Linked DNA regions of Homo sapiens: all the other regions are reported to be linked to region 1. The links are microRNA targets in miRTarBase. Many come from high-throughput screens and were not tested one by one. Region 1 holds a microRNA gene; each other region holds the end of a gene's coding sequence.

What was found. Region 1 holds the annotated microRNA hsa-miR-191-5p (CAACGGAAUCCCAAAAGCAGCUG, at 1,224-1,246, shown strand). A microRNA usually pairs through its seed, bases 2 to 8, with sites in the 3' UTR of a target mRNA and lowers its output. Matches are read on the target gene's strand: a 7mer-m8 pairs with bases 2 to 8, a 7mer-A1 pairs with bases 2 to 7 and ends in A, and an 8mer does both.
Region 2: miRTarBase lists NOTCH2 as a target of hsa-miR-191-5p. Seed matches in the 3' UTR shown: 7mer-m8 at 1,264-1,270.
Region 3: miRTarBase lists CEBPB as a target of hsa-miR-191-5p. Seed matches in the 3' UTR shown: 7mer-m8 at 2,247-2,253.

Annotation. Positions count from the first base shown.
Region 1 is chr3:49,018,584-49,021,917 of GRCh38, reverse strand. It overlaps MIR191 (microRNA 191), which reads left to right and starts at 1,209; the gene lies at 1,209-1,300. MIR425 (microRNA 425) reads left to right here and starts at 1,684; the gene lies at 1,684-1,770. It also overlaps a transcript of DALRD3 not described here and a transcript of NDUFAF3 not described here. RefSeq lists silencers at 1-186, 223-425 and an enhancer at 1-710.
Region 2 is chr1:119,912,799-119,915,876 of GRCh38, forward strand. NOTCH2 (notch receptor 2) reads right to left here. Exons shown (of 34, transcript NM_024408.4): 34 at 1-3,078. The coding sequence ends at 2,508. Among named protein-coding and RNA genes, the nearest start is that of ADAM30, 18 kb to the left of the region's middle.
Region 3 is chr20:50,191,534-50,194,867 of GRCh38, reverse strand. CEBPB (CCAAT enhancer binding protein beta) reads right to left here. Exons shown (of 1, transcript NM_005194.4): 1 at 2,200-3,334. The coding sequence ends at 2,797. It overlaps CEBPB-AS1 (CEBPB antisense RNA 1), which reads left to right and starts at 2,799. Exons shown (of 7, transcript NR_125739.1): 1 at 2,799-3,204. RefSeq lists an enhancer at 770-1,331 and silencers at 2,696-2,805, 3,226-3,334.

The sequences.
Region 1 (3,334 bases):
TGCCCATAGTCCCGGGGGAGTGGAACACCTGGCAGCGTGGCCACCCTCAGGGCGTTGCCTGGGCCGCAGCCGCGGCCTGGCCCCCGGGCTCTCAGCTATTAAGCCGCGCTCCCGGGGCGGGGCGACCGCCCACCTGGTCGCGTCCCGAACACCTGGCCAGGCGGTGGGTGCCAGACTTCTAGCCCCTAATTCCAGCCTTTGGGGCTTCGGGCACCGTGGGCGGGGCAGCCGGCTCAAGTTTCTCCGGCTAGACGCGGAAGCACGCCCCGCCCTAACCGTCACCCGCGCGACCGTTGGCCTCTCCGCAGCGCGCGGAGAGGGGCGTGGCCGAGCGTGGATTGGCTTCTCGGGTTCTCTAGGGGGCGTGGCCAGGTGGTTTCTCCTTAAAATGGCTCCAAGTCTGCAGGCAGCCAGAGCAAGCGGAAGGGCAAGCTGTGATAGTGTTTGGGTGGCTGTTCGGCTGGCCCAGACCAGGCCGAACCGGACCAGACTTGAAGTAGAAGCGCGTGGAGCATCACCTTGTCCTCGTTCACTCTGCTCGCGTCCTGGGAGTCCCCCGTCCCCCGTCTTGATCCAAGTCAAGGGCCTACTGGCGCGAGAGTCGCTGGCCCCCGCGCGGGGTTTGGGCATCTCGGCACGCCGGCTCTGTCGTGGCCTCAGGGGAACATTGTCGCTTTCGCTACCCGCGGGGCCGGGCGAGCGGGAAGCTCGGCACAGTGGGAGCCTGGTGGTGGGTCTCCTGGGGCCGGTCGCAATGGGTTTCCGGGGGTCCCGCGGCTGCTCTGTGGACCCCTTCGGCCCCTGGTGCTCCGGGCGCTGGCAGCGTCACCGGACAAAGGCCACCGAGCGCGGGGGTGTCCCCGAGGTGGACGCGCGGGTTTACTTCCTCTCCGGCCCCACGGGCGCGCTTCCCTCCTGACGGATTCCGAAGCCCGCCCCACCACCGTCACCGCACCAGTGGCCCAGGCTTCGTGGGACCAACAGGGCTAATCCTGCCCCACGGATCTAATCCGGATCGGGACCCGGTCCCAGGGGAGGCCCCCACCTCCCCTTCTATTGTTCTGTGGCCCAGGTGAGCGTCTTGTTCCCTCTAGACTCCGTTTCACAACCTACTCCCGGGTCTTCCTCCTGGGACTGGGGATGGGCGGGTTCTGATGTGGCCCCAGGGCGAGTGACCTGGGGGCAGGAGCTCCCCCGCCCCCCGCCAACGGCTGGACAGCGGGCAACGGAATCCCAAAAGCAGCTGTTGTCTCCAGAGCATTCCAGCTGCGCTTGGATTTCGTCCCCTGCTCTCCTGCCTGAGCAGCGCCCTGGCCCAGATGGGGTGCCCCTGACCCCCAGACATACTTTACTGAGCTGCTTGGGTCTCAGTTCCTCTCAGTTGCGCCCTCAGGCTGGAGGTGATGGGTGTAGACGTGGGAGAGCCGAGGCTGGTGGCCATCTCTGGAACCCTGGGGAGGATTGGCGAGGGAGGGTGGACCCAGGACCTCTGGGTAGGGCTGCAATGGTAGTGACTCCCCCAGGGCTGCCTCAGCCCGCATCTCGCTAAAGATAGCCCTCTTACTTCCTGGGGAAAAACCACCCCAACCGTCTTCGTGGATGAGAGTATCTGAAGTCCTCAGTTTGACTGAGGGTTCCCAACCCTGCTAAGCAGTTGTCTCCAGGTCATGCACCTTCAGAATGGAAAGCGCTTTGGAATGACACGATCACTCCCGTTGAGTGGGCACCCGAGAAGCCATCGGGAATGTCGTGTCCGCCCAGTGCTCTTTCGGCGCCTCCCAGCAGGGCCTCAGCCCTGGCCCAGAAAGGGGCCTTGCCAAGCTTTTCCTGCCCCTGGGTTTCCCTGCTCTCCGGATTTCCCAACTCTCTCTACTGAGTTAGCTTCTCTATTAAAAGGAATGGGGGTGGGGTGGGGGGTGAGTAAGTTACAGTGAAATGAAGACATTTGGGAACCTTTGTGGGAGAAAGAAAAAGACCTTTCCTATTGGTAGAGGAGCAAGATACTCCAACTGAGGCCTATTTTCTATTATGGTCGCATTATTTGGTTGGCCCGTAAATGGCTGTTGCCTAAAACAGGAAGCTTTAAGGATCGTTGTTAAAGCACACCAGGTTAAAGGAGTCACATTAAAAGCTGGTCATTCTGAGCCGGGCGCGGTGGCTCACGCCTGTAATCCCAGCACTTTGGGAGGCCGAGGCAGGCGGATCACCTGAGGTCGGGAGTTCGAGGCTTGACAAACATGGAGAAACCCCGTCTCTATTAAAAATACAAAAGTAGCCGGGCGTGGTGGCGCGTGCCTGTAATCCCAGCTACTTGGGAGACTGAGGCAGGATAATCACTTGAACCCGGGAGGGGGAGGTTGCGGTGAGCCAAGATCACACCACTGTACTCCAGCCTGGGCAACAGGAGCGAAACTCCGTCTCAAAAAAAAAAAAAAAAAGTCTGGTAATTCTGGAAGCCATCATGATGGTTGTGATTTCTCAGGTATCAAGAGAAGAAAACCGCCAACTGTATCAGAGTGCTTATTTATTGGGCATAAAGACCACCCGGGCTGGGTGCAGTGGCTGATGCCTGTAATCCCAGCACTTTCGGAGGCCGAGGCGGGCAGGTCACGAGGTCAGGAGTTCGAGACCAGCCTGGCCAACATGGCGAAACCCCGTCTCTACTAAAAATACAAAAATTAGCCGGGCGTGGTGGCGGGCGCCCGTAATCCCAGCTACTCGGGAGGCTGAGGAGGAGAATCCTGTGAATCCGGGAGGTGGAGGCTGCAGTGAGCCGAGATCGTGCCACTGCACTCCAGCCTGGGAGACAAGAGCAAGACTCCGTCTCAAACAAACAAAAAAACACCCATATCTCAAACGAGAAAATGCTTGCAAATAACCTGAAACCGCGGAACACTATTCTTTTTAAAACGAGATATTTTAAGTAGGTCGTGAAAGTGGCCTTAATGTTATACTGCCTTATTCCAGTGACGAATATTCATCATGTGTAAAATGGGAGAAATGAAATGTTATTAAAACAAACATGTGAGACTTCGATGAGAAGAGACGGTACCCGGTCTAAGCGCCCACCGGGTCGCGAGGATCCTTTTCCTGGTTAAGGCCTGGGTCACAGCGAAAGAACCCTAGGCCCAGGGAGGGCCCCGAGATTTCAGATCCGGGGCCCGGCTGTGCAGGTGGACCACGCGGAAGGGGCGCTGGGGGCGGTAGGTCGAAAGCAGCCGACAGGGCTACCACTGGCGCACCTGTCCACTTACGGGGACCACCGCCGCATCCCCGCCCCAGCTAGTCGGTCCTTTCCGGAAGTTCCACCTCCCTAAATTTTTTTCCGGTTCCG
Region 2 (3,078 bases), not on the chromosome of region 1:
TCTTAAAATCTAAGAGATCAGTAAAAAGTTTGAAAGGCAGTGTTGTCCTCCTCATCACTGAAACCTGTTGTCTGTAATGACAGCTTTCACATTCCCTTTCTCCAAACCCAAAGGATCCAAATTAAAGTAGTCCAAGAAAAAGAAACAAGCAATTTGGTCTGACATTGTGCTTAAGGAAAAGGGAGGATATAAAATATCCAGTGGCTGGATCAGTAGCTGATACTTTCAGAAGTGGGGCTGGAGCAGGAGGGCAGAAAGGGGCAGGTACGCTGTGGTCCACAGAGGTCCATGCAGATAGGTTCTCCCCATCTGTGAATAATAAATGGGTCCAAGGGCAGAGAGTCACCATTTAGAATGATAAAATGTTTGCACACTATGAAAGAGGCTGACAGAATGTTGCCACATGGAGAGAATAAAGCAGAGAATGAACAAACTTAATCTGCTTATCTCAGGGCAGAAGTAATTATTTTTGTTGGTTCAATAAATTTGGATAGGACTGAAAAAACCATTTGTAAACTATTATGCCAACAGACACGCAGGGTTTCCATATGGGGCCACCGACAGACAAATCAGGTAAGTGGGAAGCACTGATGCATACTTGCAGCCATAGAAGGAATGAGAACTGTCATTCAAACCAAAAGAGTCGGGAATTCACCTGTTAATATCTACAAAATGCCCAGGCAGAACTTATTTTGCAGGTGTCATGGGCATCACAGCACTGGACGGAAGTTGCAGTGTAGCCATGGACCAATTATTAACTGGCCCAAGGAGAAGAGGAAGAAAACTATTCTTTATCTACAATTAACTAAAATGCTTCTGCCCTTAAAAGAAAGTCAAAGAAATTGCCAAGAGCATGAATACAGAGAGTGGATTCAGGTGAGGGGCAATCAGTCTGAACAATGAGCAAGTCTATAGTTGTCCATTATCATCTAAAAGGTGACTCTAGGAAAGGAAAATGTTCTGTTGAGTTTCTACGTTAGTTGCCAAAGGGAATGTCATGGCCGCTTCAGAGGAAAAGAAATGGTAGCAGAAAATAGCAAAGGCTGCTATATAGTTCCTCCTTTTCCAACCTTCTTATAGGGCTGTTTTGGATCATAGAAAACAAGTCCAACTTTCCAATTCCTGCACTTGAACATATAAAGTCCATGTCTTCAGTGAGAACATACTGGGTATACCAGTAACACGGACCACACGGTGTGAAAGAAAGATTGGTGAGCAGGCCTTTAAGCAGCAAGATAATCAGTAGAGACTGATCATCTGACAAACGGAAGACAACTGTCACTGGGTCCCTTGGGCTAAGGAAAGTTCAGTCCTAAATGGCAAGGGTACAACATTTGAGACAGTGTCTTCTGTGGATATGAAAGGAAAGGCTCAACAGTTAAGACTAGTTTCATATGCTGGGTGAGTGAGTGAAACAGGCCTAGAATGCTCAGATCTGGGACAAATGTGTTCCATACAGGCAGTCAATGGAATGCTTGGCAGGAAGTAGGGGGACCTGTGGGTGGGTAACTGGCTCTTGCACGAGTTAACTTGTCTCTTGGTCATTCCAACATTCCAAACCTTTTTCTGGTTTTAAAAAAGTGGGGAGGGTCATAGTAACTAGACTATCAAGGATAAAACTTTACACTGACCAGGCCCATACACAGAAAAACAACAAACTCACACCCTTCTTCCTGGTAAAGTTTATATGAAGACCTGCACACAGACAAGAAAAATTAAGGTGCAGCCTCTTGAAGGGATCTCCTGCCCCCAAAATTTGTTGAAGAAAAGTATTCTTCTCCCCTTCTCTCTCCAGGAATGATATATGCAGGAGAACACAATACAGTATGTCCATTTTCCAAAGAAACAACATACTTGAAAGGTTTGTGCTGAGAACCATACCAAAGTAAACCTTGTGAGACTCCAAGGGATACCGGGAAGACAGGAGGGGAAAGGAGACCAAAGTTGCTTTCATGGGCCAGAATGATCAAAAGCACAAAGGTCTTGCCCTATAACATGCTGGTAGGGCTACAATCACGGAGAGGTGCAAAACCAAAAGCACCAAATGAAGACAAAAGAATGTCCAAGGAGGAGGAGATGCGTAGGTCAATTCAGGCAGAATTCCAGGGCATAATTCCCAACAGGACGCTAGTGTAGAATCTTCTCATGGATATGGCAGAAGCCTGCAGGGCTTAAAATGCAGTCCAAGCTGCAAGAATGTCTGGGCTTCAATAAGCATCCATCTTATTCTCCAAATAGAAGAGAGTAAACATGGACCCAAGGCTTGTATTCATCTTGCATTTCCACAAACTTGTCTTATTAGATTAGAATAATCAATAAGCCTTGCAGATACCCAGTGAAACTGACGAATTGCTTCTCTTGCATTATCTGAATAAGAACATCTTCTCTTTCCTACCTCTAGAAGCTGGCTCCAGAGATTTCTTCATTTCTCTCCCGGATGACCTTCATTTGTTCCTCAGCAGCATTTACAAAAGTCAGTTATGTCTCTACACTGGAGGTGGACTCTCTCACGCATAAACCTGCATGTTGTTGTGTGGTGGCTCAGACATGTGTGTCCCAGGTCCCCGCTGACCTCCTCCAGCACCCCCAGGGGTAGGGCTGGTGGTCACATCTGACCAGTCAGAAGCAGAGTGGGGTGATGAACTTGACCACTGGTCAGGAGACTCTGGGGATGGTGTCAGGTAGGGATGCTCACCCTGGAGGTGACCACTGTGACTGGGTGTTCGCTCAGCAGCATTTGAGGAAGCATAACTGTGCTGTGAAGGGGGTGTGGGGTACTTGCCCACAGAGGCTGGGAAAGGATGATAGGCTGGGAGAATGGTCTGAGCTACCTGCCCGTCCTGCTGGGGCATCATGGCAGTGGGGAAAGCCACACTGGGCAAACGGGCCATTTCTGGAATCTGGTACATGGTGGGCAGGGGGCCCGCAACAGCTGGAGGGCAGGTGGACTGAGGCTGGGGAGCCCCCGCTGGTTGGGCAATACTGCCTTTAGGGATGAGCTGGAAAGTCACAATGGGGGGCAAGGGCTCCCGAGGGGTGGTTATGTGCTTCCCTTCAGGTGGCCTGCTCTGGGGAGCT
Region 3 (3,334 bases), not on the chromosome of region 1:
TCAGGCAAGGAGCCCTCCAAGAAGAGCCTGGGATTTTAAACAGGAACTGGGATTACAAACCAGGCTCCCAGCCCCAAACTTTCCCCATAGACTTGGGAGTCGGATGGTTTTGTAACCTGCTCCACCTAGCCCACCTTGAGCACAAACCTCACTTCTGTGGACCTCAATGTGTGCTTTTAGAAATGGGTCTAGCACCTTCTGTGGGGTACTGTGGATGAGAGCAAGATGTGAGTGTGTGAAGAACTGACTCAACGCTGGTTCCAGGACAGCACTGGGGAAACAGAAGCGAAGCTGTGGGGCAGACGGGGGCGGAAGAGGGGCACCGTCTGGCCAGGCTGCTTCCCTCTCACCTCATTTGGGTGAGCAGTGGCCACCAGCCAACTCTTGGTGACAAAGGAGGGAGCAGGGATTTGAGATTTGTTCCTCAATTTCGACCCTCTCCACCTCCCTCCTTCCCTAGGTCCAGCCCCTCAGCCTCTGCCTTCAGCAAGTAAATCCTTGAGGTCAAGCCCACATTGCTGTCGCTGCTACTGACAGAAACCATCGAGACCAGTGGGGCTTGGGACTGAACTGACTTCGAGGCTTTGAAGGCATGCCCGGCCAGTTGTCCAGTTGCCCAGGGCTGGGAGGGGACGTGGTCAGGGCCACGCTGCAGGTCCCAGGTTGAAGTGAGGTTATCTGTGTCCAGCAATCTGCATAGCCCTCGAGCCACCATCAGGAGACACTGGCATTAGGGAGGTGGAGCTTATAGGAATCCTCCGCTTTGTGGCGGTGGGGGATGAGTGTCGCTGTCTGTTCCCCACATCCCAGGCTCCCACAGGGAAAGCACAACCAGGCCCCCAAAAGGAAAAGGAGGGGCAAAGCATTTCCCATTCGCGAACCACGGTATCAGCAACTGCTCCTGAGATCCCAGACCGCCCCAGGTCCTTGGCAAACCAGGCTACGATGCCTGCTGCCCCTGAATTCCTCAGGGCAGGGCAACCCCCAACCAGTGTCTTGCCCATAGGGATCGGACAGCCCAAAGCTGCTCCCCACCTCTAAAAACAGGCGTCATAACAATCCCCACCTTCCCAAAGGTTATTGTGAGGTCTAAATGGGATGGGGCAGGTCCAGTGTTTACCAGATGCCGGCCCCTGGCAAGTACTGGCCACACTGGCGCTGCACTGGAGACTGGGGTGCCAAATGCCAGCAGCTTCCCAGCAAAAAATAATAACAAGAGCAAGCGCTTATATAACACTTCTTGCGTGCCAGGCACTGTGGGACGCTGTACATGTATCCACTCACATCCATCTACATCCTCAACTCTCAGGAATGCCATCCAGGGCTGGATGGGAGTAGGGGGTGCGGTGAGAAGCCGGAAGGGGCAAAGGGATCAGTGGGCAGGGAAGAGGAGCCTGTCCCAGGGAATCAGGGCTAGCAGCCCCACGTTTGTGCCTGGGCTCAGCCACCTTGAGCAGGCAGGTGAGGTGGGCTCAGTGTCCAAGTCTGGGCAAAGAGAGCAAGTGATGAGCCTCCCATCCTCAGGAAAGGTAATCAAAGTGTGGGAACCCCTCCCCCACCTCTCTCCACCTGGCCTGGCCTCTCCCCTCCTGCTGGCCAGGGACACACAAACACAGACTCGCCCACACACCCAGGCTCCCCTCTTTAAAATACACATGTATACACAAACTGTGTTTTAAACAACCCACCCCACTACACTGACCAAAAGCATCTGCCCTGACTCGGGCTCAGCAGGACCAAGACCTGAACCCCCTCCTCCTACAGTCACAGGCCTGCCTACCTAGTCCCCAAACACAGGGCAGGGGTCACAGACCTCCCAGCCCTTCCAAACCCAAGCCTGACACTCGGGACCAGCCAGAGGCTCCGGAATCTCTTCTCAAGCAGGGTTCCCAGCCACCCGTCCCGGCGCCTAGGGGCTCTGAGTCAGCCTGAATGCCTGACCCATTACTCTTCTCCCCTTTCCCCCGGGGCTGGAACCCCATCTCAAGCAGACCCTGTGTGTGTGGGAGGGGGAGTAGCAGAGGAGGCAGAAAAACCAGCTGCAACACCCCCACCCAACCACCAAAACCTCCAAAAATAACAGCAGCCCCCCACACACAACCCCCTACACACCAGAAACGCAAAAACAAAATCCTACAAATCCAAAATAAAGTAAAAAAATAAAAAACAAAAGCCAATTACTGCCCCCAAAAGGCTTTGTAACCATTCTCAAAAAAAAGTTTATTAAAAGTGTTCTTAATGCTTGAAACGGAAAAGATTCCCAAAATATACAGACGCCTCTTTTCTCATAGAAATAGATTATTTTTTATAATACAAAAAAAGACCAAAAAACAAAACAAAACAAAACATCAACAGCAACAAGCCCGTAGGAACATCTTTAAGCGATTACTCAGGGCCCGGCTGACAGTTACACGTGGGTTGCGTCAGTCCCGTGTACACACGCGTTCAGCCATGTTTAAACCGATTGCATCAACTTCGAAACCGGCCCGCCCGCCGGCGCCTGGAGAGGGGCAGAGGGAGAAGCAGAGAGTTTATCATTCATCTGTACACATAGACGTTTCTTCTTTAAATAACACCACGGGCGGGAGCCCCATCTGCATGTGCGGTTGGTTTGGACAAAAATATAGATATATATATATAATAAAATATTAAAATTACCGACGGGCTCCCCGCGCTGCCAAGTGCCCCAGTGCCAAAGTTTTGCCGGCGCCGCCGGGGGCGGGGGCGAGGGCGCGGGCGCGGGCGCTCCCCGGAGTCTCAGCCCCGGCCGGCAGGGGGACGCGCGCGGGGGCCGCGCTAGCAGTGGCCGGAGGAGGCGAGCAGGGGCTCGGGCAGCTGCTTGAACAAGTTCCGCAGGGTGCTGAGCTCGCGCGACAGCTGCTCCACCTTCTTCTGCAGCCGCTCGTTCTCGGCCGTGAGCTCCAGGACCTTGTGCTGCGTCTCCAGGTTGCGCATCTTGGCCTTGTCGCGGCTCTTGCGCACGGCGATGTTGTTGCGCTCGCGCCGGATCTTGTACTCGTCGCTGTGCTTGTCCACGGTCTTCTTGGCCTTGCTCTTGACCTGCGAGGGCGCCGGCGCGGCCCCCGCGTAGCAGGCGGTCGGGGGCGCCTTGGCGTCAGCGGGGCTCGGCGTGCCGGGCGGGCTGGACGAGGAGGACGTGGAGAGGCTCCCGCTGCTGCCGCTCGGCACCGCCTGGTAGCCGAGGTAAGCGCGCAGCGCGTACGGGAAGCCCGCCGCCATGCCTGCGCCGCCGCCCGGCGCCCCGGCCTCCTCCTTCCGCTTGCAGTCCGCGGGCTCGAAGCCCGGCTCCGCCTTGAGCTCGGCGGGCGGCGGC